2 separate regions of the Homo sapiens genome follow, and region 2 is linked to region 1. Evidence: fine-mapped expression QTL. Tissue or cell type: whole blood. Region 1 holds a variant in brackets; the other region holds the start of a gene. Each region is shown on its reference strand, or each on the opposite one. Region 1 has its middle 47 kb from the start of MIR607. Region 2 holds the start of MAN1A1 (mannosidase alpha class 1A member 1).

Region 1 (3,016 bases):
AGGCTGAGGCAGGAGAATCGCTTGAACCCAGGAGGCGGAGGTTGCAGTGAGCTGAGATCGTGCCACAGCACTCCAGCCTGTCAACAGAGTGAGCTCCGTCTCAAAAAGAAAAAAAGAAAAGAAAGAAAGATGAATTTTAGTAACTGAGCACAGTCACTCATGCCTGTAATCCCAATACTTTAGAAGTCTGAGGCAGGAGGATTGTTTGAGCCCAGGAGTTCAAGACCAACCTGGGCAACACAGTGAGACCTGGTCTCTACAAAAAAGAAAGACAAATTTTTAATTTCCTGGAGCAAGCTAAAGTGGGCAGGAGTGGGAAGAAGCTGGTGGAGATGAACAGTCAGATCAGAGAGAGAAAGTGAGAAAGAGTGGGCACTGGAGACTTCATATTGTAAAGATGGCAGTGCTCCTCAAATTGATCTGCAGATCCAATGCAATCCTTATCCATTTCCCAGGTGACTTCTTTGCAGTATAAGCTGATGCTAAAATTATGCGAGATATCACAGAACCTCTTTTTTTTTTCAGTCTTGAAACAATAATAACAAGTTGGGAGGACTCATACTCGAGAGGCTGAGGTGGGGGAATCGCCTGAGCCCAGAAAGTCGAGGCTACAGTGAGCCATGATCATACTACTGCACTCCAGCCTGGGCAACAGAGTGAGACCCTGTCTCAAAAAAAAAGTCTCCCTCGTGACACACAGTTTACCTATATAACAAACTTGCACATGTACCCCTGAAACTAAAATATAAGTTAAAAAAAACTTTGAAGAAAATACGTGTACATTTTTATGACTTTGGATTAGATGATGATTTCTTAGATACTATACCAAAAGCACAAGCAATCAAAGAAAAAAATAGGTAAATTGGGCATCATCAAAATTAAAAACATTTGTGCTTCAAAGGAAACCATCATGAAAGCAAAAAAAAACCCACAAAAAATATTTGTAAATTATATAGCTGATAGGAGTCTAGTGTCCAGCATATATAAAGAACTTTTACAACCCAATAACAATAAGACAAATAATTCAAAATTGTTTTTTTTTTTTTTGAGACGGAGTCTCGCTCTGTTGCCCAGGCTGGAGTACAGTGGCGCGATCTCAGCTCACCCAAGCTCTGCCTCCCGGGTTCACGCCATTCTCCTGCCTCAGCCTCCCAAGTAGCTGGGACTGCAGGCAGCCGCTACCGTGCCCGGCTAATTTTTTTGTATTTTTAGTAGAGACGGGGTTTCACCATGTTAGCCAGGATGGTCTTGATCTCCTGACCTCGTGATCCGCCCACCTCGGCCTCCCAAAGTGATGGGATTACAGGCGTGAGCCACTGCACCCGGCCCAATAATCCAATTTTTAAATGGGCAAAGGATCTGAGTATACATTTCTCCAAAGAAAATATACAAATGGCCGATAAAAAAATGAAAATCTCAACTCCTTTGGCCATCAGAAAAATGCAAATCAAACCCATATTGAGATACCAGTTCACACTTCCTAGGATGGCTATAATAAAAATAGATAATAAGTGTTGGTGAGAGTGTGGAGAAATTGGAAACTTCATGCACAAGTGGTAGGTAAGTAAAACGGAGCAGCCACTTTAGAAAATAGTCTG[T/G]CCAGGCGTGGTGGTTCACGCCTGTAACCCTAGCACTTTGCAAGGCCGAGGCAGGTGGATCGCTTGAGGCCAGGAGTTCAAGACCAGCTTGGGCAACATGGTGAAACCCTATCCCTACCAAAAAAAAAAAAAAAATTGGCCAGGCATGGTGGCATGCACCTGTAGTTCCAGTAGTTCCAGGTACTCGGGAGGCTGAGGTGGGAGGATTGCTTGAGCAAGAGAGGTGGGGATTGCTGTGAATCGAAATCACACCACTGCACTCCTGCCTAGGTGACAGATCAAGACCCTATCTTAGAAAAAAAGAAAAGAAAAGAAAAGAAAATAGTCTGGCCATTCCTCAAAAGGTTAAACATAGAGGTGCCACATGATTCAGGAGTTCTGTTCCTTATGCATATATCCGAAAGAATTGAGAACATATTATATGTTCACAAAAAAACTTGAACATGAGTGTTAACAGCTTCATTATTTATAATGGCCATAAAGTGGAAACTACCCAAATGTCCATCCAATGCTATACTTTCTGCCTTATAATTGGGATATTTATACCACACAGGTGGGCAAACTCAAAGGCTCACCCTTTGAGTAAATATCTTACTCAAAATATTGAGTAAATATCTTACTCAAAATATTGAGTAAATATCTTACTCAAAATATTGAGTAAATATCTTACTCAAAATATTGAGTAAATATCTTACTCAAAATATTGAGTAAATATCTTACTCAAAATATTGAGTAAATATTTTAGGCTTTGTGGGACAAGAGGCAAAATTGAAGCAATTATATAGTCAGTTATAGAAAAAAATTTACCATTAAAAAATGTAAAAACTGCTTTTAGTTCATGAGCACCGCAAAAACAGGCAACAGATGGCGGGGTATGGTGGCTCATGACTGTAATCCCAGTAATTTGGTGAGGCCAAAGCAGGAGAATCACTTGAACCCAGGAGTTTGAGATCAGACTCTACAAAAAAATACAAAAAAAAATTGTACCTGGGAAGCTGAAGTGGGAGGATCACTTGGGCCTGGGAGATCGAGGCTACAGTGAGCCATATTCATGCTACTGCATTCCAACCTGGGCAACAGAGTGAGACTCTGTCTCAAAAAACAAGCAAACAAGCAAACAAACCAGGAAACAGCCATGATTTGGTTTCGAGCTACAGTTCACTGACCCCTAGTTGAAACTATTTATATTGAAGGTGATTAGTGATACGGTTAAGTTTAAATCTGTTATCTTGCTATTTGCATTTCTTTTTTCCTCATCTGTCTCTTATTTTCACTTTTTTCCCTTGCCCTTTTTTTTGCATTAAATAAATATTTGTTATGATTCCAAGGTATTTTATTTGCTTATTTGCTATTTTTTTATTTTAAAAGTTGCTTTAGGTTTTATAGTATATATCTTTTACCTATCACAGTTTTTCTTA
Region 2 (2,500 bases), not on the chromosome of region 1:
TGACCTTAGATCTTACTGGACACATCTACTACTATATTGGAAACAGGAAAAGAAAGAGCTTTTGACACAGCACCTGGTGGAAGGGGCAAACCTCCATCTCCCCATACATTGCATTGTTGCAGTCTTCAGAGTTTCAAAGGCTTGCCGTTTCTCCCTGAAAAACACGGCCGGTCGGGAGGGATTTCTGGCGCGGCCCACTCACCTCTTTGATCTTTGCCCTTTTCTCGCGGATGGCGGCGTCGGCGGGCTCCCGGCTCTCCACCCCGATTGGGGGCACGAAGTCCACCGGGGGCAGGCCTCTGAACGGCGCCTTGTCACGCAGCTGGTCCTGGGCCACCTTCTTCTTCTCCAGTAGGATGTCTCTTTGGATCTCCTCGGGCAGCTTCTGCAGGGTCTCCTTGGCTTCCCTGAGAGCCCGCTCGTGGTTTTCGCGGATCCTGGCCAAGTTGTCCTCCAGGGCGGCCTCCGGGTCCCCGGGTGCCCCCTCCTCGCGGCGCCGGGCTCGCCCCTCGGCCGCGTCCTCGGCGCGCGCCCCGGGCCCGGGCTTGTGGTCGGCGGCCGGCTGCAAGGCGGGGCTGGAGTGGAACAGGACCCCGCTGAGCAGCTTGGAGGAGTCTGGCAGGAAGAAGATCGCCCCGAAGCAGAGCGTGATGAAGGCGCTGAATACCAGCAGCAGCACGAACTTCTCCGTCAGGCGGAGGGCGGCGGGGCCCGACCCCTTCCTGCCACCGCCGCCGCCGAGCCCCCCGCCCAGGACGCCGCCCGCGGGGCTGCTGAAGAGCGGCAACAGGCCCCCCACGGGCATCGCTCCCGCTGTCCAGTGGTCCGGCGCCGCGCCGCTCAGCAGCCAAACTTCGCCGCCGCTGGGAGTCCGCGGCTGCGGGGCTGGGTCCTGCGTAGCCAGGCCGCCCGACCCCCTCGGCTGGGCTGCGGATCCTCCCTGGGGGAACAACTCCGCGCCGGGTCTTCTCCCCGGGGCGGCTCCTCGGGCACACAGGCACGCGCGACAGACCGCTGGCTGCAGCCCCTGCGGGGAGAGAAACAGTAAAACGTAGTAATTACGGCGATGATAAAGTTTCCAGCGGGTCTCCGCCCTCCGACTCCTGGCGAGCCTCCAGGACCGCTCCCCTTAAGCAGAGTCCTGTCCAGTCCGGGCACCGCCCTCGCAGCCCACTCTCTGGACTTGGGGTGAAGTTATCAGGTCCCGTGGGTAGGGGAGGGGTGTCCCGCGCAGGAAGGGGTCAGGGCAGCGCGCGAGCACCTCGGGGAGGGGCAGCGCACCTCTGGGCAGGAGGGGCGCAGCGTGGGCGGGAGACTCGTCAACTTCGCCCGCTCCCCATCTCCGCGCTGAGACTGCTGCCTCTTTCCTAGGCTGGGCTGAGCGCGCTGTCCCACGGTCCCGCAGCCCCGGCGCGGCTCAGGTGGGCGAGCGCGCCGACCTGCGGGCGAATGGCAGCGAGTAGAGCAGCACGGTACACTCCGCCGCGGCCCCGCGAGCACTAATCTCACTGCCGGTCTTGGGGCGGTGGAAAGCGAGGGAGGCGACGCGGCCGGAGAGTGACGGCGCGGCCGGGCCAATCACGCGCCGCCCAGGGTCCCGCGGGGGCGGGGCCGAGGCGAGGAGGGGGATGCGCGGGGCGGGGAGTTTACGGGAAGCGCAGCCTCGGCGGGGCCCGGCCGGCGGCGGGGAGGTCGCGGGGCCGGGAGGCGCGAGGTAGGCGGGAGCCGCGGTGAGGAGGACGGTCGAACCCGTGGCTGAGGCCCAGCGCCGAGAAGCGGCAGGCAGAGTTCGGGGTCGGGGAGTTTATCCTGCGCTGGCCTCGGCAGGGGTCCCCGGGGTGGTTGATCCTCGACTGGCCCGGGAGGCGCCTGGGTCCGCGCGGGACCTCTCTGCCTCCTCCTCCGACCCGTGCGGGGCGGTCGGGGGCGCTCCCGAGGGGGTCCCGGGAAAGGCGGGGTCTGGCAGGGGGTCCTGGGCGCTGGGTCGTTCAGAAGCACGGCTTTACTCCAGTTACCCTCTTTTTATCCAAGGCCGGGGTTCCCCGGGTGCCTGGTAGCAGTGAAACCCCAAGTCCCTCGGTTAGGGGAGCCGTGACCCTGGGAGCTTTTGAGCTCTCTGGTATAACATCCTTTTACATCCTAAGAGACACAGTTCTGTGCTTGCTTAGGACTTTTTTCGTATGCGCCCTTTCTTCCCCCAAAAAACAAAAAACCGAAAAAACTTGTATGTCTCTCCCGCCCACCCGTACTTTCACTATTCATTTACCTCATAGAAGTTGGTCAAATTTTCCATTCGAAGACGAGTTTTATGCTGCGGTAGCTTCAAGCAATAAGTCGAACACTGTGTTGAAATTAAGTCTTGGATCCGACTACTTCCAGCGAAGTGAGGAGTTGGTCCAATAGAAATTATTTTCCAAAATGTGTTGTAATTCTCCTGTTGCTCCACAAATAAGGGGTTATCAGAGAGGAAAACGTTGACTGACTTCGCATTTCTGAAAGC

Evidence for each region. PIP is the estimated chance that this variant, and not a neighbour inherited with it, causes the effect.
Region 2: it holds the start of MAN1A1, and the variant in region 1 is fine-mapped to the expression of MAN1A1 in whole blood (TOPMed, PIP 0.90).

The regions. Positions count from the first base shown.
Region 1 is chr10:96,780,415-96,783,430 of GRCh38, forward strand. No RefSeq gene overlaps it. Among named protein-coding and RNA genes, the nearest start is that of MIR607, 47 kb to the right of the region's middle. The variant T/G (reference allele first, on the strand shown) is at 1,599.
Region 2 is chr6:119,348,261-119,350,760 of GRCh38, forward strand. MAN1A1 (mannosidase alpha class 1A member 1) reads right to left here and starts at 1,501. Exons shown (of 13, transcript NM_005907.4): 1 at 1,282-1,501; 2 at 203-1,027. The coding sequence starts at 805. RefSeq lists an enhancer at 1-321 and silencers at 532-651, 712-911, 1,422-2,061.